4 separate regions of the Homo sapiens genome follow, and regions 2, 3 and 4 are each linked to region 1. Evidence: fine-mapped expression QTL. A gene starts in region 1. Each other region holds a variant in brackets. All regions are shown on one strand. Distances are between the middles of the regions.

The links. PIP is the estimated chance that this variant, and not a neighbour inherited with it, causes the effect. A credible set is the group of variants that fine-mapping cannot tell apart.
Region 2: its variant is the best candidate, but not a certain one, in a credible set for the expression of TTLL12 in sun-exposed skin (GTEx, PIP 0.83).
Region 3: its variant is the best candidate, but not a certain one, in a credible set for the expression of TTLL12 in whole blood (TOPMed, PIP 0.76).
Region 4: its variant is the best candidate, but not a certain one, in a credible set for the expression of TTLL12 in whole blood (INTERVAL, PIP 0.86).

Annotation. Positions count from the first base shown.
Region 1 is chr22:43,184,121-43,190,368 of GRCh38, reverse strand. TTLL12 (tubulin tyrosine ligase like 12) reads left to right here and starts at 3,235. Exons shown (of 14, transcript NM_015140.4): 1 at 3,235-3,476. The coding sequence starts at 3,300. RefSeq lists silencers at 2,822-2,941, 3,190-3,349, 3,390-3,609 and enhancers at 3,990-4,049, 4,060-4,139, 4,080-4,584.
Region 2 is chr22:43,205,992-43,213,668 of GRCh38, reverse strand. SCUBE1 (signal peptide, CUB domain and EGF like domain containing 1) reads left to right here. Exons shown (of 22, transcript NM_173050.5): 17 at 1,077-1,244; 18 at 2,586-2,747; 19 at 3,429-3,626; 20 at 5,445-5,597; 21 at 6,056-6,135. SCUBE1-AS2 (SCUBE1 antisense RNA 2) reads right to left here and starts at 995. Exons shown (of 2, transcript NR_134632.1): 1 at 972-995; 2 at 8-514. The variant G/A (reference allele first, on the strand shown) is at 3,906.
Region 3 is chr22:43,214,420-43,222,096 of GRCh38, reverse strand. SCUBE1 (signal peptide, CUB domain and EGF like domain containing 1) reads left to right here. Exons shown (of 22, transcript NM_173050.5): 13 at 808-924; 14 at 1,510-1,647; 15 at 3,639-3,842. Among named protein-coding and RNA genes, the nearest start is that of SCUBE1-AS2, 5.6 kb to the right of the region's middle. RefSeq lists an enhancer at 1,349-1,850. The variant C/T (reference allele first, on the strand shown) is at 4,803.
Region 4 is chr22:43,160,033-43,166,064 of GRCh38, reverse strand. TSPO (translocator protein) reads right to left here. Exons shown (of 4, transcript NM_000714.6): 3 at 4,875-5,013; 4 at 2,823-3,262. The coding sequence ends at 3,074. Among named protein-coding and RNA genes, the nearest start is that of TSPO, 11 kb to the right of the region's middle. RefSeq lists enhancers at 2,013-2,515, 2,516-3,019. The variant C/T (reference allele first, on the strand shown) is at 3,099.

The DNA of each region.
Region 1 (6,248 bases):
CATTTTGGGAACAATGCCTTGCACCCCAAATGCTTTTTCCCTCTTGGCTTCTCAACTCTGTTTTAATTATGACAAGAATGACCCAATTTTTTTTTTTTTTTTTTTTTTTTGTGAGTTGGAGTCTCACTCTGTGGCCCAGGCTGGAGTGCAGTGGTACGATCTCGGCTCACTGAAACCTCTGCCACCAGGGATCAAGCAATTCTCCTGCCTCAGCCTTCCAAGTAGCTGGGGTTACAGGCACCGCACCAAGGCTAATTTTTGTAGTTTTAGCAGAGACGGGGGTTTCACCATCTTGGCCAGGCTGGTCTTGAACTCCTGACCTAGTGATCTACCCACCTCGGCCTCCCAAAGTGCTGAGATTACAGGGGTGAGCAACCACGCCTGGTGACCCAATTCTTATGATCAACTTTCACAAAGTCATTGTATTGGGTTTAGGCTCCATGTTGTATGAAAAACCCATTTTGTATGAGTACCCTTGGCAAAGCTCTCAGAACAAAAAGCTATCAGGGACCAAAGGTCAACCTGGGCTTGGATTTTCAGGATGGAAGGGCCTTTTTTATTTTTAGACGGAGTTTCCCCCAGGCTGGAGTGAGTTGATGCGATCTTGGCTCACTGCAACCTCCATACCCCCACCCCTGGGTTCAAGCAATTCTCCTGCCTCAGCCTCCTGAGTAGCTGGGATTGTAGGTGCCCACCACCATGCTCGGCTAAATTTTGTATTTTTAGTAGAGATGGGGTTTCACCATGTTGGTCAACCTGGTTTCGAACTCCTGATCTCAGGTGATCCACCCGCCTTGGCCTCCCAAAGTGCTAGGATTACAGGCATGAGCCACTGTGCCCGGCTATGGAAGGGACTTTTAAACTCTTTTTTTTTTCCCTGTTTCTCTCTCTCCTTTTTTTCAATTGTCTGGAGGGGGAGGGGGTTGGTGGCAGTAATGGGAGCAGAGCAGTAATTTTATGTTGATTAAATACACATTCTTCAGTGCCTCTTTAGAAGACAACATTTCAGCTGAGAAGAATGAGTCAGGATTTACAAAGTGAGCATGGGGAGAAAGGCTTTCTGGCAGAAAACAGAGCACAATGCTTTCCAGGAGCTGAAGACAACCAGAGATACAGGGACTCACAGTGTGAGGGGAAGAGTGTAATGAAAAGAGGCTGGAAAAGTTGGCAGTGCCAGCTCACACAGAGCCTTGGAGCTCAGGTGAAGAGTTGAACCACAAAGGGTTCCAAGTAGGGATCTGATACAACTGGGTTTACATTTGGGGAGGAGCATGTGAAAGAGGACTGCCCTGTCAGAGCCTCACATTCTCCTGGTCAAAGGGGCTGGGTCAGGAATGTTCACATAATCTGACCAGTACCTGACACAACTGAGACTCAGTCTGTCTTCCCCAGCGGGACCGATGGAAGGGTTGTGGAAGCGGGAGGTGCACTAGGTGTGTACCACTATACCTGGCTAATTAAAAATTTCTTTTTGTAGGGTCGAGGTCTTGCTTTGTTGCCCAGCCTGGTCTCAAACTCCTTATTTCAAGTGATCCTCCTGTCTTGGCCTCCCAAAGTGCTGGAATTACAGGTGTGAGCCAGCATGCCCCATCCTAGCATTGTGATGCTGTTTTACTATATTATTTATTTTGAGATGGAGTCTCGCTATGTTGACCAGGTTGGAGTGCAATGGTACAATCTCAGCCTTGGCTTCCACAACAAAAACCGAGGAATCAGGGTTTTCCTCTGGCCATGGTGAAACCCTGTCTCTACTGAATACAAAAAATTAGCCAGGCGTGGTGGCACACACCTGTAGCCCCAGCTACTTGGGAGGCTGAGGCAGGAGAATCACTTGAACCCGGGAGGCAGAGGTTGCAGTGAACCGAGACTGCACCATTGCACTCCAGCCTGGGCAACAAGAGCAAAACTCCATCCCAAAATAAATAAATAAATAAAATGTTTTTCTCTGCAGCCCTCACCAACTTGAGTTTGGAAATTTTTGCCTTTGCAGACCCACCTGCTTCCTACAATGGAATTGAACAAGTCCGTGAATTGGTGCATTTTATTCAAACTCAGTTCAAAAATGTTATCAAAATAGCATCTGAAGCTCCAAAAAATTTTCAGCCTTTGTTTTTTAGCAAATTACAATTCTTACAAAATTGCAAAAAGGAAGACATTGAAATGTATCCCTATGGAGCAATAAAACTCAATGAGAGTTCAAAAGAGAATGTCTTTTGAAATTCTATAACTGAACTGTTTTCTTTTAAAGAGGGAGTCTGGCTATGTTGCCGAGGCTGGACTTGAATTCTTGGGCTCAAGCTATCCTCCCGCCTCAGCCTCCCGAGTAACTGGGACTACAGACGCGGCCACCACGCCCAGCTCAACTGCACTTCGAAACATCCCGACATGTAGGAGTAAATTCCTCTGACGGGTACACTTGGTCTTAATTGGATCAACTGACATTCCGAATCCAAATATAAGTAATTGAGAAGGGCCACGATTTTGCAGCATCCAAATCTGGTGAAACGCTCACAAGAATCGAGAGCTCCCAAGGCAGGGGGCCTGCGAGCTCTGTGTGCCCGGTGCAGGCACAGAAGCGCCGCCTCACCGGGTTCGGGCCCCAGGACACCTTCCGGGCCGTCGGTGGGGCCTTTTCCGGTCCTGACAGCGCCCTATACGTAGGCACCCCGCCCTCCCGGCATTCCCCGGGGTCGCCGCGCGCTGAGCGAGAAAAGCTCAGCCACCATCAGGTGCGCGTGCGCACACGGCGGCAGCCAAACCACAGGCGCGGTCGCAGACGCGCGCCCCCTCCTGGCAAGCTCGCGCGCTCTCGCACGCACCCCGCCGATGCGCAGGGCCTGCCCGGGGGCCGCGGCAAACCGGGCTGGAGGCGGACTGGGGGCGGGGCGGGACGGGGTGAGGGGGCGAGAAGAGGGCGGGGCAGGGGAGGGGTCGGGGGGGCCGGGAGGAGGACGGGGCGGTGGGGAGGGGGGCAGGGGGCGGGGGCAGGGGGCGCGGCAGGGGCGGGGGGCTGGGGGGAGGACGGGGCGGTGGGCGGGGGGCTGGGAGGAGGACGGGGCGGGGGTGCTGGGAGGCGGGCGGGGCGGGGGGCGGAGGCGGGGGGGGCTGGGAGGAGGGCGGGGCGGGGGGGGGCTGGGAGGAGGGCGGGGCGGGGGGGGGCTGGGAGGAGGGCGGGGCGGGGGGGGGGGCGCTGGGAGGAGGGCGGGGCGGGGCAGGGGGCGGAGGCGGGAGGGCAGGGCCGACGGACGGCGGGCGGCGGCGGCGGTGGCGGCGCTGGAGTCGGCGCGGGTGCTGGCGCCATGGAGGCCGAGCGGGGTCCCGAGCGCCGGCCTGCGGAGCGTAGCAGCCCGGGCCAGACGCCGGAGGAGGGCGCGCAGGCCTTGGCCGAGTTCGCGGCGCTGCACGGCCCGGCGCTGCGCGCTTCGGGGGTCCCCGAACGTTACTGGGGCCGCCTCCTGCACAAGCTGGAGCACGAGGTGCGGGGAAGGGCGGCGGGCACGTGCGGCGGCCGGGGTGGGAGCGCGGCGGGAGCCCGCGGCGCGGGACAGGGAAGAGCGCTCCCGGGCGGCGGGAGCCGCGGTGAGCCACCCAGAGCGCGTCCTGGGCAGCTCTGGAGCGGCGTGGAGTTGGGGGCCGAAGAGTGACAGCAGGAGACCGGGGTACCTGCGGCCCTGATCTGCCCGGGCCCGAGACCGGCTGAGGGCTGCGTTGGGAACTTTAGGTCCTCCACACACCCGAGCCTGACACAGCCCTGCGAGGAGTGAAACTCATCACCCCCACTTCACAGATGAGAACACTGCGGCTCCGAGAGTCCCTTCAGAGGGATTCTTTCAGCCGCTGCCTCACAGGGACAACGGGAACCCCGTGAATTTGTGTAGCTGTAACTGTTGGGTTCACAGAATTCGGTGTTTTTTCATTTGATTTGAGCCTCGGGGTCCCCTCATCTTGCAGGTTAAAGAAAACAGGCTGTGAGAGGTGGAGGAGAAATCTAAAGAAAAATGGAAAAGATTGAGAAGCCTCTAGGTTCTCTCCCTTTTTGTGAGGACGGCCCATCCGGCTCACCTGCCTCCTCCACTCCAAAGCGTTCCCCACTGTCCTGGCTGGGGATGAGCCCTGGATTTTTATTGCGTGCCCAGAGGCTGAGGCCACAGCACCTTCCCGGGCTGGCGGGGGGGGGGGTGTTTTCTTTAGCTGGGACCCGACATCTCCTCCAGGTGCTGTCTCCCGGACGGAGATGAGCCTAGTGGCGCAGGTGATGAAGTGGAAACCCCAGAGCCAAGAACAGGGACCCGGGCCGGGAACTAGGAGTCCCTGAGCCTGGCTGCTGGCCAGACTCTACGGTCTCTGAGCCAGTTTTTCTCTGTGTAATCCTGATTGGACTAGGAACCTTCCTGCTGGAAACGTGCAGTGAGTGGCACCTCCTTATGCTACAGTGTAACAGAGAGTTTCCTCTGCCCCTCACTTCTGCCATATGCTTTCCGAGGACCACTCTGGTCCCAGGCCTGTGCTGGGTGGAAGGGACCTTGGTTTGTTCATGAGGACAAAAAGGTTCCCATGGGCTGCGTGGAAGGAGCACAGTGGGAATGACCAGCTCCTGCCCAGCCAGCCTCCACGGCAGCACGCCCTCCCTCGGGCGGTCACTCGCCCGTCTGAGACCTGTTCTCCATCTGGGAAGGGGATGGTGAGACACCATCTGGCTCCCACAGTATTGGAAGGATGGGAGGTGGCATGAGAAATATGCCTGGCACACAGAGGGTGGTCGCCACCGTGCCACGTCCCCTGCCCAGGCCGCCTTGCCTGCTGTTGCCCTACTAAGGGGCAGCCAGTGTTTTTCCGTGACCCTTCCCCAGCCGTTAAGGACAGAGCTGAATCACTGCTTTACCATTCACAAACTTGCAGCTCTTCCTGAGTGAAGCCTCCTGCTGCTACTGGCCCAGGTGTGGAGGAGGCCGCCAGCAGCAGCAGCACCTGCCAGCGCTGTGGGCCCTTACACCCCTGGCCATCAGCCCTCCTGCCTCACCTTAGGCCGGCTGCCCTGGAAAGGATGGGGAAACTTGAAGATACATACATATATATATATATATATATATATATATATATATATATATATATATATATATAATTTTTTTCTTTTTTTAATTGAGACGGAGTCTTGCTCTGTCACACAGGCTGGAGTGCAGTGGCATGATCTCGGCTCACTGCAAGCTCTGCCTCCCGGGTTCAAATGATTCTCCTGCCTCAGCCTCCCGAGTAGCTGGGATTACAGACGTGCGCCACCACACCCAGCTAATTTTTGTATTTTTAGTAGAGATGGGGCTTCACCATGTTGGTCAGGCTGATCTCGAATTCCTGACCTCGTGATCCGCCCGCTTTGGCCTCCCGAAGTGTTGGGATTACAGACGTGAGCCGCCACGGCCGGCCGAAGAGATGTTTTTAAAATGTCTACTCTTCTGTCTGCACAAGCTTCCCAGTTGCAAAACCACTCCCCTTATCTCCTGGGGAGCTCTTCCAGTCCTGCCATGAAGGGGTTGTGGTGAAGGAGAAACCCAGCACCCCATTTCACAGCTGGGTTGAATCCAGGCCAGGCTTGAGACAGGCTCTCTGACCCTCAGCCTCACGCTGTCCCCTAGGGATTTGGAGTACTGGGGCGGAAGCCCGAGGTCTGGATTCCAGCCCTCTGAGCCTCCCCCCAGCCCTAAACTGGAGAAGGCAGTAGCCTCCCCAGACCCACCTTGAGGGCTAAAGGAGAACTGGATGGCTCTTGTCTCAGGTGCCTTGTCTCTCATGTGACCCCTGGTTTGCTCCACCCTGGGCTATCTGCCTCCAGGCCTTCGCTCTTACTCTTCCCTCTGCGTGGAGTTCCTTTCCATCCTCACCCCGTAGCCTCATGTTTAAATCTTCCCCTTCTTCAAAGCTGGCCTCTGGTTATGGTTCCTCATCCATAAAGTCTTCCCAGGCCCTCCAGGCCCCAGAGCAATTTACCTGATACTCTTAGGTGGCCTAGACCTTACTCAGCCTGAGCTTCCTGAGCGAGACCTTGAGTGATTCATCCTCACGCCACCAAAGGGCAAGTCCTGCCCAGTGCACAAAAGCTGCCTGCACCTGAGTACTTAGCTAGTTTCCAACTGCCGTTTTTAATCGAGTAGTGGGAAATACGTTTTAGGGAGGAACTGGCCTTTGTTGAGCCTCCACTGTGCGCCAGGACTTTATGCACGCTGTTTGATTTCATTCCATCAGTGTCCTGAAAG
Region 2 (7,677 bases), 23 kb before region 1:
GAACTTTGCTCCACACAAAGAACTTTATTATGTGCCCCACAGACGGTTTAGAAAGCCCTTTTTCAATTTACCAAATGCAGTTAGGTTTGCAAAGAGCTTTTGCATTTACCTCCCTCTCCCCACTTAACTCCATCTGTGAAGCTAGCTCAGTCTCCCCATGAGCCTTTCTTCCCAGGCCACTGTGAGTTTCACCCAAGAGAATCCGCGGGGAAGGTTCTCAGCACCCTGAGAAGCACAGTGCCTGTGAGGGTGGGGGAGTGGGGTCCCAGGATACTGGAGACCTCCAGCTTTCTCCCGGTGATGGAAGGGCTCAGAGCCCAGCCCTGAGTCCGTCCAGGCTGCCGGCTGCTCTCTGGCCCACGCCCACTCCAGGAGTGTGGTCTCCACCCCTGGGGGAGTGGCCACTGGTAGGAGATTCCGTGTTTGGGTAGAAGCTGAGAATCCCAGGGTCTGGGCTGAGAGGGTGCTAAACCCGCCTCTCACTCAATGCCAGAATACTCTCTGCATCCTGAGTCTGCTGGAACGCAAGAACATTCTTTACTCGGAGCTGAAATTGGCTTTCCTGTGGTCCCCTCCCTTTGTCCCAGGGGTGCCCTTGAGTACCTCAGAAACCCTCCCCAGACCCGCCTCCCTCTGCTCTGGCCTGGCCCTGCTGGTAGACCAGGCAGCGTCACCCTGAAGCTGAGCAGGTGCTCCTTCTGCGGAGACCCCGGTGCAGCCTACCCCCCGGGGACAGCCCCTCTGAGACACGTGACCTGCCCCTCCACCTGTGGGTCCCCTTCCCAGCTCAGCAGCAAGGCCTCTTGCTCTTCAACCCCCAGGCCTTCTTGCTGGTGGGAGAAGGAGAGCCAGGCTTGACCAAGGCCGCACATGAACCGCTGGCATCATCCGGACCAGGGCCCAGCTTCCTGCACCCCGGCTGCTGCGTTTTCCCCACCCCGTCCCCACCCCAGGCCTCGGGTGCCCAGTACCTTTTCCAGGGCCGGGCAAGGGCCAAGAGCGGGGCCTGAGACCACCCACAGCCTCGGCCCTGCGGTGCCCTCCTGCCCGCCTGAGCCATGACCTCTGACTTTCAGGCCAGTGTTCTCCAGGCTTCTTCTCGGCCGATGGCTTCAAGCCCTGCCAGGCCTGCCCCGTGGGCACGTACCAGCCTGAGCCCGGGCGCACCGGCTGCTTCCCCTGTGGAGGGGGTTTGCTCACCAAACACGAAGGCACCACCTCCTTCCAGGACTGCGAGGCTAAAGGTGAGCATGCCCTCCCCACCACGCCCGCCCACCCCGAGAGGCAGGGCTGCACTGCTCCGAGAGGCTTCCCCGAACCCCTCTCATCTCCTCCATGTGGCGAACCTCCCAGCTCAGAGGAGGAGCCTGGAGCTGTCAGGCGTGGGCGTGGGTGACCCACTGTGCCCCGCATTAGGACAGGGACACCTTATAGCTGAGAGCTTTCTGAGCTCCAGGGGGAACAGCAGCTCCTCGGAGCACTGGGGAGGGCTCTGGGGACAGGAGGCCTTGAGCAGCATCTAGAAGGGAGGTTGGGAGGGTGAGGAGGGGGCAGGAGTGTGGGGGCAGGAGTGTGGGGGCAGGAGCGGGATCAGGGCATCACCTCAACTGCTGTCTGTTCAGGGCATCTGGTCCCACCCAGGTCTACATCCCGTCTTCCCTCACTCACCAACTCCCCCAAATCCTCCCCATTCTCAGCTGCTGACCCTGCTTCCCCACCGTGCTCCCTCTCAGTGTCTGTCTGTCTGTCCAGGTGGCCTGGCTCTCAGCCCCCTGGAGCCAGCCACATCACCAGATACTCCCCTGCACATACAAACTGTTCTGAATTTGCCCATTTAAAAAAAGAAGCCAGGTGCGGTGGCACACACCTATAATCCCAGCACTTTGGGAGGCCAAAGGGGGTGGATCACCTGAGGTCAGAAGTTTGAGGCCAGCCCGGCTAGCATGGCAAAACCCTGTCTCTACTTAAAAAAAATACAAAAATAATTAGCCGGGTGTGGTGATGTGCACCTGTAATCCCAGCTACTCGGGAGACTGGGAGGGGAGGATCGCTTGAACCCAGGAGGTGGAGGTTGCAGTGAGCCGAGATGGCACCATTGCACTCCAGCCTGGGTGACGGAGCGAGCTCCATCTCAAAAAAAAAAAAAAAGAATTGCCCATCTCTAGCCCCCCGCCCCGGCACCCCTCAGACTCCGGCCGCCTGTCTCTCCTGCCCCAGCAACCTTGTAGAAAGAGGGTTTGGCCTAGCTGGCTCCACTTCCCCTCCTCCCTGTCTCCCCCGCACGCCTCCGGCCACATCATCGCCCCCGCTCTCCCTGAAAATGGCTCCCATCAAGGTGGCCTGTGTGGTCCCTGTTTTGCTGGAGCCAACATCACATCAATCTGCCATGTGACCCCCACGCCAAGGGCTCTTCCTGGCCATGGCGGAGTGAGGGTGGTGGGAGGTCATGGGGCGGTGGGGAGGAGCCTTGAACTCTGTGCCAAAACAGACCTCGAGGGCATGAGAGGTCCTGGGGACAGCACCCCAGTGCTGCCCTTTCCCTGCACCCCTCCACACCCACCACACTGCCTTGTGTCCCCCGGCAGTGCACTGCTCCCCCGGCCACCACTACAACACCACCACCCACCGCTGCATCCGCTGCCCCGTCGGCACCTACCAGCCCGAGTTTGGCCAGAACCACTGCATCACCTGTCCGGGCAACACCAGCACAGACTTCGATGGCTCCACCAACGTCACACACTGCAAAAGTGGGTGCTGCTGCTCTGCCGTGGGAAGCTGGGAACACGGGAGGGGCTGGGCAGGTTGTGGGGGCGGGAGGAGACCTGATCTCACACGAGCTCCACGAGGACACTGGACTCCTCCCGCTCCGTCCCGTCTGCTCTCGGGTGCATTGCATCCATCTGGAGGCCTGTGGCACCAAAGGGGCAGCCCTGGCTTGGCCCACTCTACGGAGCCCACAGTGGTGGCCATCGTTCATCAGTTCCCACTGCTCACCCAACACAGCCCAAGCCTCTGCCCTGGGCCAGGCCCTGCTCTAGTTTCTGGGTCTGCTGGGGGGGCTGACAGCCTACAGGGGCACTGACAGGGCCTCTAGAGAGAGCAGGGCTCCAGGCCCTCTCAGTGCCCCTGACAAGGCCCAGCCACAGAGAAATAGGGTGGGCCTGCAGGCATGGCAGCCCAGTAAGAAGAAGCCCCCAGGCTGGGCCTCAGGGAACCACAGGCCTGAACAGGGGACCTGCCCTCCTGCTCTGGGGGCAGCCCAGGCAGGGTCCCCAAGGAGGATGGGCTCAGGGTCCGAGGGCTAGTGTGGGGGGGGACAAGAGCACCTTCCAGCCCTGCCCTAGGCCTCCCAGGTGGTTAGAGGCCTGGCCGGCCAGGGCCCCTGCCCAGCAGAGCCTGATGAGGCCCTCGGGCCACTGTGCCCACAGACCAGCACTGCGGCGGCGAGCTTGGTGACTACACCGGCTACATCGAGTCCCCCAACTACCCTGGCGACTACCCAGCCAACGCTGAATGCGTCTGGCACATCGCGCCTCCCCCAAAGCGCAGGATCCTCATCGTGGTCCCTGAGATCTTCCTGCCCATCGAGGATGAGTGCGGCGATGTTCTGGTCATGAGGAAGAGTGGTATGTTGGGGGCCGAGGGGACCAGAGGCAGCCTCAGCTGCGTGTGCACCCCCGTCTCGCTGCGGTTCTGCCAGGCGGGATCGCTGCCTTCACAGGGCAGAGAGGAGGGCCCTGGGGCTCAGAGGACCAGCCCCTCAGAGTCCACCTGGGAGGCAGGGTTGAAACCCACTTGGGTCTAAGAGCTGGCTTTACAGAGTTCTGTGGAAAGATCTGGAGAGCTTAGGGTATTCCGAGAGTGGATGCTGGGACATGGTCAGGCCTGGTCTCAACTCCGGCCAC[G/A]AGCCGGGCCCTCATCCCAGTGGCGGGACCAGCCGCAGGGCCCCTTGCCACCACTTTCTGCCGCACCGCTCAGGGCGAGACCTCAGGCTCCAGCTCCATGGGTCTCCTCCCGCCCGCTGAGGTTTGGGGGACCACACGGCCGTCCCATGCACCACACAAGATAACAGCTCAGAGAGCCCTCCCCACCCCTCTGTGAGCCCTGGACTCCTGGCTCATCCGCCCCCGTCAGGGCTCCTCTTGAGACTTTAGGGAGTGAAGGATGGAATGGCATGAGAGAGGACTGGACTCAGCAGTGGGTGTGACCGCTGTGTGCCCAGCTGGCCACAGCAGCAGGAATGCCTGGGAGGCCCCTGAGCCACCCGAGCACCAGCCAAATACCTGCAGCGCACCTGTCCAGGGCACCTCGCTGCTGTCGGGCTGTGGGTGCCCATGTGAGCGAGCTCCATGTCTGAGTGTTAGGGAAGGAAGAGCAGGAACCCAGACACCCACAGACGCTGGCCAGAGAACATCTCTGGGTACCCAGTGACCACAGAGACCGGCCAGATGAGGGGGTGGGGAGGGGCCTGAGGTCTGCGCCAGGGCTGCTCCTCCAGAGTTGCGTTATCCTGGGCAGGAGTTGCTCAGCATAGCTAATGAGTAGACGGATGTCAGCAAGGCTGACGCAGCTGAGCAGCCAAAAGCCGCAGTGTGCGGATGGGCAAGGGACCGGCCTGGGACCACATTCCCCACCCGTTCCCCTCACCCGTTCCCCTGCCCCCAGCATCCCCTCCTTCTGTCCCCCACCACAAGCCTGAGCTGAAGTGAAGCCCAGCCTGTCCCCCATGAAGGGCTCCTCGGGAAGGCCCCCAGGGAGCCGTGAGGCCTTGCCAAGGAGCCCTTAAGCGGGGAGAGGCTGGGCAGGGCTGGGGTGCTCCCACTGTCACCGTGTCTGAGAAAAGGATGGTTTGCAGAGTTTGGGAAGATTCACCTGCCGGTCACATGCTGTACCCACGCTGCCGCACTCGGCTCCTGATTTCCTCCTCGGGAGATCAGGGCTCAGTGGGCCTTGCTGGTGTATTTGCTCTCGGGGAGAAGGGACTTCCCAAGTCTGTGCCTCTGGTCCCAGCAGTCAGTGCCAGTTCATCTCCCACGTCCTCCCCCAGCTTCCACTCCCACCCTGGCCTTGCACCAAGTGCAGGCCTGAGCCCTGTCACCGAGGAGCAGTTAGCTGGAGGGAGATGGAGACCCACTGACAGAGGGGCCTGTGATAAGGGGTTCACCAGAGCAGAGCAAGATCTTGGGAGGGGATGGGGGGAGAGTCAGGGAGGCTTCCTGGAAGAGGGGACAGAGATGGGTCTCAGAAGGACAAGTAAGAACCCGGGTTGAGGGTAGGGAAGGGCCTCAGAGGCAGAGGGAGCAAGCACAAAGACTAAGCCGTTGTGTTTGGGGGACCAGGCGTTCGGTGCAGGTGCTGGGTGGTGGACTGGATGGGAGGCGAGTGGCCTAGGGCAGGAGGAGCTGCCTACCTGTGGCAGCTCAGCAATGATGCTTCACCCGCAGCCTCTCCCACGTCCATCACCACCTATGAGACCTGCCAGACCTACGAGAGGCCCATCGCCTTCACCTCCCGCTCCCGCAAGCTCTGGATCCAGTTCAAATCCAATGAAGGCAACAGCGGCAAAGGCTTCCAAGTGCCCTATGTCACCTACGATGGTAAGATCCACTGTCTTCACGGCCCACTGTGCACGGCTCAGGCGGGGCCCTGGAGACACAGAGATGAGTCGCACGTCCCCGCCCTCAGGGAGCTGCGACCTGGCAGGTACAGACCTGGAAGCAGAACGAACACTGTCAGGGGCCAGAGCCAGACAGGCTGAGGGTGGTACCGGGTGGTACAGGCAAGACAGCGGTTAGTGGCCTCTGCAGGCTTCAGCTGAGGTGCTGCCCAAGCAGGGTTTTGAGGGCTAAATAGGGGGTTCTTAGTGAAACCCCGAGGAGGACAATACAGGTGCAGGGAGCCCCAGGTTCAAAGGCACAGAGGCAGAGCTGCGGCCAGCCATAGCCCAGAGCCCGTGGCTGGAGCACAGGAGGGAGGGCAGAGGCTGGAGGTGAAAGGGGAGCACGTGGGCCTCAAGCCCCTCGCCTTCCTCTCCCCCTGCTGACCCGCTGCCCAGAGGACTACCAGCAACTCATAGAGGACATCGTGCGCGATGGGCGCCTGTACGCCTCGGAGAACCACCAGGAAATTTTGAAAGTGAGTGAGTTTATTGGAAGGGAATCCACGTAACCCTGGGATGGGGCCTGTGATGAGCCAGGACCGCCCCTGCCCCAGCCCTGGCCCCTGGAGGAGCAAGGGAGGGTGGGTGGTGATGGGAGAGGAGCAGGAGGCTTGGGGGTCCCAGAGCCCTAATGGTGGGGACTGGGTCCTGCACATCTGTTCCTCCAGACCAGGAGGCCTGAGGGAAGCTGTTTGGTGAGGACTTGGGGACCAGGACCTGGTGATGTGGCCTCAGGCACATTCCTCACCAGCTCACAGCCTCACTCTCCTCATCTGTAGAATGAGGGTATTCTGGGGGATGTCTCAGAATCAGTGGGATCTACCCAGTGCCATTGTCACTTGGAGCCCCCCTGCCGCTGGGACTAGGCTCCCTCCTCTTCCTGCTTCCAGCCTGGAGAGGCAGGGCCGCCTGGTGTGTCACATGGTGGGTACTGGCCAGAGGCCTGGGGACCCAGGACTCACCCAGCTCAGCCCTGGGCAGCAGCACTGTCAGCCCAGGAGCCCCGGGGTGTGGAGGACAAGGGCAGGGCTGGAACGCTCCCGCTGTCACTTCTTCTGAGAAAAGGATGGTTTGCAGAGTTCGGGAAGATTCACTTGAGTCTCCCCATAGTCTGCCAGTCACGTGCTGCCGCCCTCGGCTCCTGATTTCCTCCTCAAGCTGCTTAGGCAGAAACCAGGGATGCGTCCTGGGCTCTCTCCCCGCAATCTCTGTCCCCCCAGCTCCGCCCTGGGAGCATCGCTCCCAAACTGGAAGCATCCTGACACTGCTCTGGGGACACAAACCTCAGCCGGAGGGCCATCCTCCTCCACAGCAGCTCCCAGCTCCTCACACGCACCAGAGCCTCTCGGCCCCTTCTTTCCCCCACCTCTTTCCCCCCATCCTTCCGCCCTCAGCTGGGACATCCTGTCGTACTCTGGGCGGCCTGCCCGGACCCCCTGACCTGGGCACACCCTTTGCAGCCCCTTAGGTCCCGCGTGCCCCTCCTTCCTGGCGCCCACCAGCACTCACTTTAGGTTTGTTCTGTGAATATTTAGTCCCTGCCCCCACAGCACAGAGGAGGGCAGGAGCATCTGTCTCCAGGGTGTGGGTTCAGGGCACGCGTGTGTGTGTGCGGGGGGTGGGGGAGTGTGCTGTGTGGTGTGTTTGTGGAGGCATGTGTGGTGAGTTTGGAGGTGTTCAGTGTGTGTGGTGACTGTGGTGTGTGTGTAGGGGTGTGTGTTGAGTGGGTGTGTATAGTGTGTATGTAGGGGTATGTAGGGGTGTGTGTGCTGGGTGTGTAGGGGTGTGTGTTGAGTGGGTGTGTGTGGGGTGTAGTGAGTGGGGGTGTGGTGGGTGTGTGGTGTGTTTGGGGGGGTGTGTGGTGAATGGAGGCGGTGTGTGTAGTGGGTGGGGGTGTGGTGGATGTGTGGTGTGTATGGGGGTGTGTATGGTCGATGGAGGTGAGGGTGTGTGGTGTGTGTGGGGGTGAGTGTGTGGTGAGTGGGTGTGTGGTATGTATATAGGGTGTGTGATGAGTG
Region 3 (7,677 bases), 31 kb before region 1:
GTATGTTTCTTTATTATTATTATTATTATTTTTAAAACGGAGTCTCGCTCTGTCACCCAGGCTGGAGTGCAGTGGCGTGATCTCGGCTCACTGCAACCTCCGCCTCCCAGGTTCAAGCAATTCTCCTGCCTCAGCCTCCTGAGTAGCTGGGATTACAGGTGCCCATCACCACACCTGGCTAATTTTTGTATTTTTAGTAGAGACATGGTTTCACCATGTTGGTCAGGCTAGTCTGGAACTCCTGACCTCAAGTGATCCGCCTGCCTCGGCCTCCCAGAGTGCTAGGATTACAGGCGTGAGCCACCGCACCCTGCCCATTTCTATATATTTAATGCATATGTGATTTGATTCTAAGCACCTGTGGTGGTAGGATTCTTTAGTCCAAGGGCTATGATTTGCTCTTGCAAGGAACCGGCAGTCCTGGATCTATAGTATTTCAAAGCCCCTTCCCTTCCTTGCTGTCCTATCTCTCTTCTGTTCTACGCTCTTTCCTAAAGCACAATCATGGCTTGCTGATGGGGAGGAGGTAGGAGGATCCCTGTCCTCCTTCTCAGAAGACCTCTGGCGGGTGGCCCCTGGGCTTGAGCTTGACCCCACCATCCATGTGTTCACCTGTTTTAGGCCTTGCAGGGAGAGAAATGGGGCAGGAGAGGGTCCCCCACCCCAGGAGAGCTGTCGGGGCACAGGGACTCAGATCAAGCCCCACCCCCAGCTCCAGATGGATTTGTCCCCTGGCAGCCCCCGTCCCCCACCACCTCCTTGCCTGCAGGAGAGGCCACCACCTGGGGGAATTTTGGCTTTCCCCAGATGCCCCCACCACCCCCATCAAACAGAAGGCCCGCTTCAAGATCCGAGATGCCAAGTGCCACCTCCGGCCCCACAGCCAGGCACGAGCAAAGGAGACCGCCAGGCAGCCGCTGCTGGGTGAGTGGGACGCCCTGCTCCTAACCCACACCAACGGGGCTGTAGGAGAGTCCTCATGCCTGGGAGCTGGGGCCCCAGGGTCCAGCGAGTCTGGTTTCCAAGGGTGGAGGTCTCTCTCACCTGGCAGCTGTTTATTGAATGAGAGTTTCCAAGGACATTGCAGGCTGGGGAAACAGCGGAGGGCAAGCTTGGTACGAGGGGCCCCGGAGGAAGGCACCAGCTCTGTCCCCGTGAAGATTCCTTCTCAAACCTAACAGAGCTCTCAGCACGCAGCAGGCTCTGCCCAGAGCCGAGTCTGCACTGGCCAAACCCTCAGCAGGCCCAGAGCTGGGGGCACAGCCTCATTCATGAATATGTATGAGATGCCTCCACCTGCAGCAGCGTGATGGACCGGGCGTGAGACCTGGCTCAGCCACCAGCCCCTCCTGAGACCCCGAGCCAGCCCTGACCTTCTCTAGCCTGAGTTTTTCCGTCTGCACCACGGACCAGGAAGTCCTTGCCAATGGCACTCTGTATGCAGGGCTTGGTAGGACCTTGCTCCCTGCCCCATGCCGCCTTTGCCACAGTGGTCCTTTCCTCGTCCAGACCACTGCCATGTGACTTTCGTGACCCTCAAGTGTGACTCCTCCAAGAAGAGGCGCCGTGGCCGCAAGTCCCCATCCAAGGAGGTGTCCCACATCACAGCAGAGTTTGAGATCGAGACAAAGATGGAAGAGGCCTCAGGTAGGTGAGGGGTTCTCCTGGGGGCTTCTGCAGGCCTGAAGGAGGACGACAGGCTGGTGGCGCTGCCGGGGGCCTGCCAGGCATGAAGCTAGGCTCCCACCAGAGCACAGCTGTGGCTGGGATGGGAGCCCAGCTTCTGGAGACAGAGGCAGGCCCACAAGCAAAGGGAGCTGGCAGGGGTCAACGCTTGCAGCCCAGGATAGAAGAGGCAGCCCAGGGCAATGAGACAGAAGAGCCGAGGTGACCTCAAAAGTCACATGACCCTTATCTGCCCCTCCACACTCCTGCTGGGACCCGGGAGGACAAATAGGTGCAGCCCCCCTAGAATGGTTGAGCCAAGGATTGTCTTTCCTGGTTCCTGAAGGAGGTTCTAATGCTGGCTCGGGTGTCACAGCAGCACTTTGCTCTTGGCTATATGTGAGTGTCAACCTGTGAGTCGTTGATGTTGAAGAGATGGGATCTGTCAGCAGATAAGTGTGGTATGGGCCTGGCTGTGGGCTTGGGCGCTGTGGAAAGAAAAGTCCCCACCCAGGTAACACTCTCAGCCAGAGAGGCAGACGCACGTGCAAACCACCCATTGCCAGGTGGGACTCTCGGTGGTGGGGGCACAAGAACAAACAATGCATAGAACTGAGGTCTGCCCCCCACGGGAGGGCTTAGGAAATGTCTTAGTCTGGCTGGGCACACTGGCTCACGCCTGTAATCCCAGCAGTCTGGGAGGGCCAAAGTGGGTGGATCACTTGAGTTCAGGAGTTCAAGACCAGCCTGGCCAACATGGTGAAACCCTGTCTCTACTAAAAATACAAAAATTAGCCAGGTGTGGTGGCAGGCACCTGTAATCCCAGCTACTCAGGAGGCTGAGGCAGGAGAATCGCTTGAACCTGGGAGGCAGAGATTGCAGTGAGCTGAGATCGCGCCACTGTGCTCCAGCCTGGCGACGAGTGAGACTCTATCTCAAAAAAAAAAAAAGGAAATGTTTTAGTCTATTTGCGTTGCTAAAAGGAACACCTGAGGCTGCATAATTTATCAGGAAAAGAGCTTATTGGCTCTCGGCTCTGCAGGCTGTCCGAGAACACGGCAGCAGCATCTGCCTGGCGAGGCCTTAGGCTGCTTCTGCTCACGGAGGAAGGTGAAGAGCAGCTGGCATCACATAGCAAGAGTAAGGGAGCAAGAGAGAGGGGAGGGGGTGCCTATGTCTTCACCAGTCACATCTCGTGGCGACTAGTAGAGCCAGCAAGAACTGACTACCACACCAGGCCATTCATGAGGGACCTACCCCATGACCCAGACACCTCCCACCAGGCCCCACCCCCAGCATTAGGGATCAGATTTCAACATGAGGTTTGGAAGAGACAAATATTGAAACCATATCAGGAAGCTTTCCCAGAAGAGGTGCCATTTGAATGAGAGCTTAGAATCAAAGCTCACTGGGTGGAAAAGGTGGCAAGGAATGGCATTCAGGCAGAGGGAATAGAATAGGCAAAGGCACAGAGGTCAGAGAGAGGAGGAGGTGTCCAGGAAGCAGTAAGTAGGGCCAGGTGGCTAGACATTGGAATCCACAGGGAGTGTCAGAGTGGAGGGGATGAGGCTGGCAAGGCCATACGGGGCTGGACCTTGAAGGGCCTTGGATTCAAGGCCAGAGAGCTGGACACTATCCTGGGGACAGTGGCAGTCCCCAAGAGTCTTTGAGTGACAGAAAGGCGTTCTTGCCCCGTGAGTCGTACCCTGGGGGGTGATGTGGTGCAGTGGCAGCTGCCTGGATTGCACTCAGATCTGCTGCGTGGCCGTGGGCAGGCCCTGCCTCCCAGGTCCGCAGCCTCCTCATCTGTCAGATGGGCATGACAGTGGCCCCTTGCCCCAGGACTGTTGTGAGAATGTGCTGAGGAGGTCCGAGCCCAGTGCAGGGCCTGGCACGGGGGAGCCCTCAGCTAAGAAGGCAGCGGCTAGCAAGGTTGCCAGCGATTCATGTTCTGTCTCTCCTGCCCCTGCAGACACATGCGAAGCGGACTGCTTGCGGAAGCGAGCAGAACAGAGCCTGCAGGCCGCCATCAAGACCCTGCGCAAGTCCATCGGCCGGCAGCAGTTCTATGTCCAGGTCTCAGGCACTGAGTACGAGGTAGCCCAGAGGCCAGCCAAGGCGCTGGAGGGGCAGGGGGCATGTGGCGCAGGCCAGGTGCTACAGGACAGCAAATGCGGTGAGTCCTTGCCCATGGCCACTCAGATGCTGACTCTGTCCTTCCTTGCACATGAGCCGGGGTAAACAGTGGTGGGCACGCAGGTGAGACAGACACCTGGGGAGGGGACAGAGAGATGCAGAGGCCTGCCGGGGAGAAGGACTGCAGCCCTCATGGTCATCACTGTCATTTGAAGAGCACTCCTCTGTGCTGGGCCTCGGGCATGTGATCACAGTCTGAGGAGGGACAAGGAGTGGACAGGACAGCAAGGCCACAGTCGAGGGGCGCGAGGGGGCACGGGAACCAGAACAGGCCCTCTCTAGTCTGGGATGTGGTTCAGGGAAGCTTCCTGGAGGAGAAGTCACGTTAGCTAAGACCTCAGGGCTCCAGGAGTTGGGGAGCCTGAGTCAGGGTCGGGGGACAGAGCAGGGATGTCGTGAGGCCTAGGGCCGCCCAGGAGGGCAGCGTCGTGCTGCAGGGAAGCAGGTGAGGCCGGCCCCCAGCGGGCGGGTGTGCGCTGGAGGGGAGAGCCTGGACGCAGGACAGGCAGAACCAGCACACGAGACAGTCCTAGTTCTAGTGGAGCTCACATGCCCGTGCGGAAGATGGACAGTGGGCCAGTGAACATGCCCACAGGTACAGTGAGGCCAGAGGTGATGGGGCCTGGCAGACACCACTCTTGAGTTGGATGGGGAGCCATAGGAATGCTTAGAGCAAGGACGCAGGCTCATGCGCGCTCTTACGGGAAGGCTGAGTAGCGGGGGCGGAGCAAGGACGGGGAGGAGCATGAGATGGAGGGGGCTCCTAGGGAGAGACAGACTTCAAGGACGACTCCAAGGGTTTGGCCAATTGGGCAGAGGTGGTATCGCTTCCTGACGCCGGCCAAATCCCCAAGGATTTGAGGAAGAGTGGGCTGGGGGGAGGGAAACTTGATGAAGAGTGGGCTGCGGGGATGGGGTGCGCAGGCTGGACATGTTCAGT[C/T]TGAGACGCTCACAAGTCATCCACATGGAGATGTTGGATGGGCAGTTGCAGCCACAAGTCCGAAGCCTCAAACAATAGGGTTGGCCAGGGGTGTAAACTGGGAAGCCGGAGGAGAAGAAATGATACCTGGCGGGGGAGGAGGGAAGCTGTTGGAGAAGAGGTGACACCTGGCGGATGGGGGGTGGGGGTTGGGGGAAGCTGTTGGTAAAGAGGTGACACCTGGCAGGGTGGGGAAGCTGTTGGTAAAGAGGTGACACCTGGCGGGGTGGGGAAGCTGTTGGTAAAGAGGTGACACCTGGCGGGGTGGGGGGAAGCTGTTAGAGAAGAGGTGACGGCAGTGTTGGGGGAAGCTGTTGGAAAAGAGGTGACACCTGGCAGTGGGGGTGGGAGGGAAGCTGTTGGTAAAGAGATGACACCTGGCGGGGGGTGGGTGGGGGGAAGTTGTTGATAAAGAGGTGACACCTGGAGAGGGCGGGGAAGCTGTTGGTAAAGAGATGACACCTGGCAGGGGAAGGGCCAGGTTGGGGAAGCTGGGACTCTGGCTCAGACAGTGGAGGGGGACAGCCGTACTGACAAGGGGGGACAAAGGGAGCTTGGTGATGTCATCTTCTACTTTCTTTTTTTGTTTGTTTGTTTTTATTTTTGAGACAGAGTCTCGCTCTGTAGCCAGGCTGCAGTGCAATGGTGTAATCTCAGCTCACCGCAACTCTGCCTCCCAGGTTCAACCTATTCTACTGCCTCAGCCTCCCAAGTAGCTAGGACTACAGGTGCGCGCCACCGTGTCCGGCTAATTTTTGTATTTTTAGTAGAGACAGGGTTTCACTATGTTGGCCAGGCTGGTCTCAAACTCCTGACCTCATGATCTGCCCACCTCGGCCTCCCAAAGTGCTGGGATTATGGGTGTGAGCCACTGCGCCCAGCCTCTTCTACTTTCAATAACTTATTTTGGGCCGGGCATGGTAGCTCACGCCTGTAATCCCAGCACTTTGGGAGGCCGAGACAGGTGGATCACCTGAGGTCAGGAGTTTGAGACCAGCCTGGCCAACATGGTGAAACCCCGTCTCTACTAAAAATACAAAAATTAGCTGGGTGTGGTGGCGAGCGCCTGCAATCCTAGCTACTGGGGAGGCTGAGACAGGAGAGTCACTTGAACCTGGGAGGCAGAGGTTGCAGTGAGCTGAGATCACACCACTGCACTCCAGCCTGGGTGACAGAGCGAGACTCCATCCCAAAATAAAAATAAATAACTTATTTTGAAATTATTTCAAAGTTTCAGAAACATTGTCAAGCAGAACAAAAAACTTCCATATTTTCTTCATCCAAATTCCCCAATTGTGCACATTTGACCACATCTGCCCCGTCTCCCACACGTGTGCATGTGTGTGAGTGTGCATGCATGTGTGAGTGTGTAGTCTTCACCATCCAACCCACACACCCACCCCATTCAGCTCCAGCAATCCTTCCAACAATGTCCCTTTTGTTTTTCTGGTCCCAGCTCCCATCCAGAAAGACATGTCACCCTCCACTGTGTCTTCAGGCTCCTTCAGTCTGGAGCCGCTTCTCCCCTTTCCCTGCCTCTCCTGCCCTTGTCCCAAACTCACCTCCTCTAGGCTAACGCTCAGAGCTCCCTCTGGTTTTTCCTGGGGACCTGACTCAGGGCCCAGGGTCCAGCAGGAACCTCAGCTTCGAGGCCTAATCCTGGGTGCCCCATCAGCAGGCACAGGATACCCCCAGCCCGCCACTGGCTTCACTTTCACTCGCCATTTTCTCTCTGTGATTGATGAGTGTTTTCTGAGTTTGGACCAATATTCTCCTCCTCATCAAACTTCTGCACAGCTCCCGCCATGTCAGCCACCTCTACCATTTGTTCCATGTTCCACGCTCACTAGTCACATTCTCCTGTAGGAAAGTGGGTGGCCATGGCCGTTTACCTCTGGGTCTGTATCCCTATAGACTCAGATTCCCCTTACTCATTGCGTGGTGATCCATTCCTGATGTTATTTAGTTCGGCGCTCACTGTGTCCCCAGGGTAGCCAGGGATGCCCCACCAAGCTGGCTCTTGGGTCTGTCTGACCTGCCACACACATGCTGCGAGCCTCCCCTTCAGATCCAACTGACACTCTCCATCCCCTGGCATCAGCCAAATCCCCAAGGACCCCTGGTTCCTTTGAGAGGAGGATGATGGGTAGAAACCAAAATCTGGGATATTCATTGCTCCTGGAGTACCACTGCCTCTAGGCCCTCTCATCGGACAGAACTGGAAAGCATAGATGTGTATACACGTGCACACACAGGCATGGGAATCTATGGGTGGGGGGGTTCTAAAACCATGAATTCATGCCAGTGCCTCCCGTTCCACACCTCAGGGTCTTTTCTAACCTTCACTCCCCATTTCCGCATTTGTAAGCATCTTCTCCAGCACTGAGAAACTCGGCTCCCTTTCTCCTGAATTTACTGATTTACTCAGTTTCCTTACTTACTCATCAGTCGACGTATTTGTTCAGTGTAGCCAACCAGACTGCGCTGTCTTCAGCCCATCATCTCCTCGCTACGCCCCTCCCACCTCGCCCGCCAGGCCCTCCTGCCCTTGCCTATTTGAGCCCCAGTCCCTCCCCACTGCCCCTAACTCCTCCACTCAGGAAGGACAGGGGAGCTTCGGGGTGAAATGACTGTAGCATATCCAAGTGGCGACATCCAGGAGGCAGTTTGCTAAAGCTGGAGGGCAGGGTGTGGAGCAGACAGAGGACAGACGTATGGGGGAGGTGGGGACCACAGGCTTCTATAAGCGGGTGGAGATGGAGGGGTCCACAGAGGACTCTGAGGTGCAGCAGCCAGAGGGGCCAGGCTTCATGGCCCTCACAGATGGCTGCCTCCT
Region 4 (6,032 bases), 24 kb after region 1:
AAACATTAGCCGGGTATGGTGGTGCGCGCCTGTAGTCCCAGCTACTCAGGAGGCTGAGACAGGAGAAACGCTTGAACCCAGGAGGCGGGGGTTGCAGTGAGCCAAGATCACACCACTGCACTCCAGCCTGACGACAGAGTGAGACTCCGTCTCAAAAAAAAAAAAAAAAAAAAAGCGGAAGGCAGAGCGGCCCTGAGGCAGGCTGCCTGTGGACTGTGCTGCTTCTCTCCTTAGCCTCCCTTCCAGGGCAGGTCTCAGGACTGATGCTCACACGGACTCTGTCCAGAAGCTTAACAGCTGGTGCTCTCACTAGTTCCCAGCTCACTTAAAACCTGGTGCCCAGGAGATAGTCCTGCCCAGGGAGCAGCTGGGACAGCCCCCAGAATCAAGACCACATGGTCCAGGCTTTCCATGATTGTAGATGGCTATTCTCTGTCCCCACATGTCCTTGCACCTCTGCTCACTGCAAATGGACACCCCCAAGGAAGGCCAAGAGCCAGGGACTTCATGAGCCGGAAGACCAGCCGGCTCCAGGTGCTGAGGCAGTTGCCGGGAGATGTTTATCCCACTAAATACTTCTTCCTGGTACTCATTTGCACCCTCATCACTGTGTTAAGAAGCCATCCAAAGCCGGAATTGACCAGGCACAGTGGCTCACGCCTGTAATCCCAGCACTGTGGGAGGCTGAGGCGAGCGGATCACTTGAGGTCAGGAGTTGGAGACCAGGCTGCCCAATGTGTTGAAATCCCATCCTACTAAAAATACAAAAATTAGCCAGGCATGGTGGTACACACCTGTAATCCCAGCTACTCTGGAAGCTGAGGCAGGAGAATCACTTGAACCTGGGAGGCAGAGGTTGCAGTGAGCCAAGATGGCGTCACTGCACTCCAGCCTGGGCGATAGAGCAAGACTGTCTCAAAAAAAAATAATAAATAAACCCACTCAGAAAGCATCAAAACCTTAAGTTCCCAGTGGATGACAGCAGCTTAGAAAAGGAGAGAATGCTGTCTGTTACGAGCATTTCCTGGGGAAACGTCGCCAGGCTGTTAAAAGGAAGCCGGCAGACGAAATGCTAAATGCGTTCTCCTCTCGCCCATTTTTCCAAGGCGTTTTGTGGCAGTGCGTGTTTTGTGGCCAGCAGGAGCTATGTGGGACATTTGTTACAGATGAACAACCCCACGAGTTGCGGAGATGGCAGAAGTCTGGGTTGCACTTTCTCCAATCCCTAAGTGTCTGGCACGGACTCAGGTGTCCCTTGACACTTCAAAGGATACCCCTGTGCCCTGCGGGGACGGTGCATGCTCACCGGCATGCTGGAGCAGGAGACAGCCTGGCCTGTAAGTTTCTTGCTAGCAAGGACCTCTCTGCCATCCGCTGCTTGGACTGTCTGCACAGAGCTCTGGAGGAATTCAACTCTGGGCGTCTTGGAGAACTTCAGAAATAAGTTAATAAAAAGGATACACAGAGGCTCCCCAGCTGGCTCCTCTGCACCGGTGAGCATCGGGAAAGCCATGAGGGCTGAGGGCTCAGCTGAGTGCCCGTGGCCGCAGAGTTTTTGGATCCTGCAGAGCGTGATCTGTTGGGCATCAAACTCTGCCAGAGTCAAGGGAGCGGGAGGCTGAGGGTCAGGGTGGAGTAGCGCAGCCCCTGGGCGGGAGCCATCCCTTCTGTCAGAAGAATGCAGTCGACTGTCTACCCATTTCCCTGAGCTGTTCGTTCTTTCGTGTGTGTGTGTGTGTGTGTGTGTGTGTGTGTGTGTGTTGTGCGTGCACCAGAGTGGATGGTATAGACAAGAGTCTCCCTATGTTGCCCAGGCTGGTCTCAAACACCTGGCCTCAAGCAATCCTCCCGCCTCAGCCTCCCAAAGTGCTGGGATTACAGGTGTGAGCCACTGTGTCCAAGCTTTTGTGAACGTCAGGTTGTGTCTGAGCGTACAGGTCGGGAGAGGACACAGGAGCCGGGGGAGAAAAGAGGAAGCAGCAGCCGCGGGCTGTTGAGTGATGACGAGCTGTCTATGAACATTTTGCCAATTTGAATGAACTTAGCTGCCAAAAACAAAAAACAAAAAGCCCGGCAGGTCAGGCCTGGCCGAGGGGAGGGAGCCGCGGGCTGTGTTGCTGAGTGCTGCATGGGTGTGGTGACCGAGAGCAAGACGGAGGAGTGCTGCGTATGGGACTCGGCTCATTTACTCCAAACAGCTGCCTGGAGAGGCCATGGGTCACCCAGTTCGAAGCCGGGGTGAGGGAGTGAGTGGCTGTGACACCTCCAATCCTGGCCGCTCTGGGCCAGCAAGGAGGCCCTGTCTGCTGGAGTCGGGACCTAACCTTTCCTGCCTCTGACTCCCCCTCGAGCCAACTGGGTGTTTGCGGGGCTATCCCTGGTGCAGTGAGGCTGCCATAAGCCTGGGCCCCCGGGGGACAGGGCAGTCAGCACCCCCAACTCTGTCCTGGGTAAAAGCAGCTGAGGGCCACGCACTGGGCAGGACCAGGCGTCGAACAGTGGTTGTGGGCCCGGCCATTAAAGGGCCCGGGCTGAGCATCCCGGAAGCCATGGGAAGCGGACAGGACCCCCTCCCTCTGCTGAAGCCCACGGCCCCAGCTGGGTCTGCGCCAGTGTGGGCCCCAGGGTGGCACCCAGGGCTGCTCTGTTCATCTCCTGCAGGGCTTCGGGAGCGTCCCAGGAAGCGTGGGGCAGCCCCAGCTGGATCCAGCCCTGTCTGGAGAAGGCAGCCCAGGCAGATCCTGCAGAGACGAGCTCCAGTGCAGCCCCAGCTCCCCCTCTTCCCTGTGGCCAGGGGTCCCACCCAAGCAAAAAGGCCATGGTAAAGGAAGTCAAAAACTTTATTCAGCTTATAAAATTCCATGTTCCAAGAACATGCTCTAAGCATGCAGAAAGCACAGGACACTGCTCCCGGGTGGGGGCTCAGGTGGGGCCACCTCTGAAGCTCTGCTGACCCCTGGGCCAAGGCCCTGACAGACTAGCAGGCCCAGTGGTCATGAAAGCGTGACGGCCACCACATCACAAGCGTGATGGCACCTGCTGGTGCAGCTGCAGTCCCTGGTGGGCCGGGCACTCACTCTGGCAGCCGCCGTCCCCCA[C/T]GCCAGCCATGGTTGTCCCGCCATACGCAGTAGTTGAGTGTGGTCGTGAAGGCCAGCCAGGCCAGGTAGGGGTAGAGCAGGCGGGCGGCCAGCGGGCTCACCTGGTACCAGGCCACGGTAGTGGCTGCCGCCGCCCCACTGACCAGCAGGAGATCCACCAAGGCCTGCAGAGATTGGGGGACGGAGGATGGGGAGGCCTGAGGCACCGCGTTCACCCAAGTGCCTGTCCCACTGCCCAACTCCCACTGGATTTGGGAGTCAGGAGCCTCACTCACCCCCACTCCACCCTTGAGTGACCTGGCCAAGCCCCTCCCCCATCGCAGCCTCAGTTTCCTCATCTGTAAAATGGGAACAGTCATGCCACCTGACCCATGCCTTGTGTGGGGTGCACATGACATGCCTGAAGTGAACTCGGTTTGTTCAAGGGTGCGGTGGTGGCTTAGGAGGTCTTGCACGTCCCTTCCCCTCTCTGAGCTTAGAGCCTCCACTGAGAGCGATGCTGACCTCCCAGCATTACTACAAGGCCCAAACAAAAACTTGCTATTTGTCAGGTGCAGTGGCTCACGCCTGTAATCCCAGCACTTTGGGAGGCTGAGACGGGTGGATCACCTGAGGTCAGGAGTTCAAGACCAACCTGACCAATATGGTAAAACCCCGTCTCTACTAAAAATAAAAAAATTAGCCAGGCGTGGTAGCACGTGCCTGTAGTCCCAGCTACTCAGGAGGCTGAGGCAGGAGAATTGCTTGAACCTGGGAGACGGAGGTTGCAGTGAGCTGAGATCACGCCACTGCACTCCAGCCTGGGCAACAGAGCGAGACTCCGTCTCAAAAAAAAAAAAATACAGAAAATTAGCTGGACATGGTGCTGCATGCCTGTAATCCCAGCTACTCGGGAGGCTGAGACAGGAGAATCACTTGAACCTGGGAGGTGGAGTCTGCAGTGAGCCGAGATCATGCCACTGCACTCCAGCCTGGGCAACAGAGTAAGACTCTGTCTCAAAAAAAAAAGGCTGCCGGGCACAGTGACGTGACCTGGAGTCCCAGCTACTCAAGAGGTAAAGGCGGGAGAATCAATCGTTTGAGCCCAGGAAGTCGAGTCTGCCCTGGGCAACACAGCGAGTCTTCATCTCTTAAAAAAGTTTAAAACTTTAAAAAAGAAGCAGTCAGCCGGGCGCGGTGGCTTACACCTGTAATCCCAGCACTTTGAGAGGCCAAGGCGGGTAGATCACCTGAGGTCAGGAGTTCAAGACCAGCCTGGCCAACATAGTGAAACCCCATCTCTACTAAAAAAATACAAATACAAATACAAAAATTAGCCAGGAGTGGTGGTGCACACCTGTAGTCCCAGCTACTCGGGAGGCTGAGGCAAGGGAATCACTTGAACCCAGGAGGTGGAGGTTGCAGTGGGCCGAGATCTCACCACTGCACTCCAGCCTGGGTGAGAGAGTGAGACTCTGTCTCAAAAAAAAAAAAGAAGAAGCTGTTATGTAGAGGGGCCAGTGACCCTGCCCACACAGTACCAGGCTTCGTGTGGGTTTTCCTACACAGTGGCCCCCAAACCCACCCCTGCAACCCCTTCTGCTTTAATAGCTTCCCTCACCGGAGGAGTCAGTAGAGGGGAGGCTCCAGGGTGTGGGCTGCTTACAGCTAGAGAGACATGGCCTTTTGTCTCCCCTGGCCCCGCCTATAGACACTGACCCAGTGTCATATGTGATGCCCCACGTCCTCCAAGGGTCGGATCCAGGGATCAGGGACACATGCTGTGGCCACACTTACCCAGCCCATTTGTCGGGCACCAAAGAAGATGGGGGGCCATGCCCAGTTCAGGGCCAGCTGCCCAGTGTAGAGGCCCAGGGGAACCACAGCCTTCTCTGTGAAGCCTCCCAGCTCTTTCCAGACCAGGTAGGAGCCGTACCTGAAACAGAGGCCGCAGTTCAGAGCACCATTAGGAACAAGGCCAGGAGCGTTGCCCACCTCCGAGTGGCACAGTGATGGTTCATACGTGACCTGACACTGACTGCTGTGTGATCTCAGGGAAGTTGCTTGACCTGTCTGGGCCTTCATTTTTCATAGGGTTGCTGTAGAGATTCTAGTTAGCACATTGGCAGTGCTTCATGCGATACCCAGCATTTAGGACACTCAGTAAATACCTGCCATTATTATCACTGTCACTGCTATGAAAGGGAAGCACATGGTGTGAATAGGTAGAGAGGAGGCTCTTAACCTAGCCAGGGCACTGCATAGAGGATGGGACATTTGGCCTGGGCCTTAAATGATGAATAGGAGTTTTCCAGGGGAGGAAACAGGACATGCAAAGGCTTTGAGGCAGATGTGAGACCCTGAGTCAGTCTGTGACTGCAGGGTGAGGTCCAGGGGGAGGCCTGATCATGGGAGCTGTTAACACAGGGCAACGATAACACCACCAGTAACAGCAGCCGATGCCCTCCAGCACTCACAGGAGCCAGGCCCTACCACTTCCCAAGCATTCACTCATTTCAGTCTCATGATGATGCCATAAGGCAGGCAGTATCAGCACCCCCTTTACAGTGAGGAGACTGAGGCGGTGAAGTGACTGAGATCTCTTGGCAGGCCATCAGTGGATAAAGTCTGGTCAGCCAGGGCCAGAGCCCCGGCTGTCACCTACTAATGAGGGGTTCGCCTTATCCAGAGCCACAGGGAGCCCCAAAATTTCCCCCGAAGAGAGGCTGGGACTGGGTGGTGTAGGAAGGCCAAGCAGGGTGGGGACACTGGAGCCAGGGAAGTGCAGGACCCTGGCTGGGCAGGGCCTGGGCCAGGAGGGGTGAGGCCCACGTGACACCCAAGTTCCAGGGCCTTATTCCCATCAGAGCCGGGCACCTGGCCTGGCCTCTGCTATCCGCCCCCTAGAGTGCCTGGCACCTGCGTCCCCACCCTGCACTGCGCTGGCACAGAACC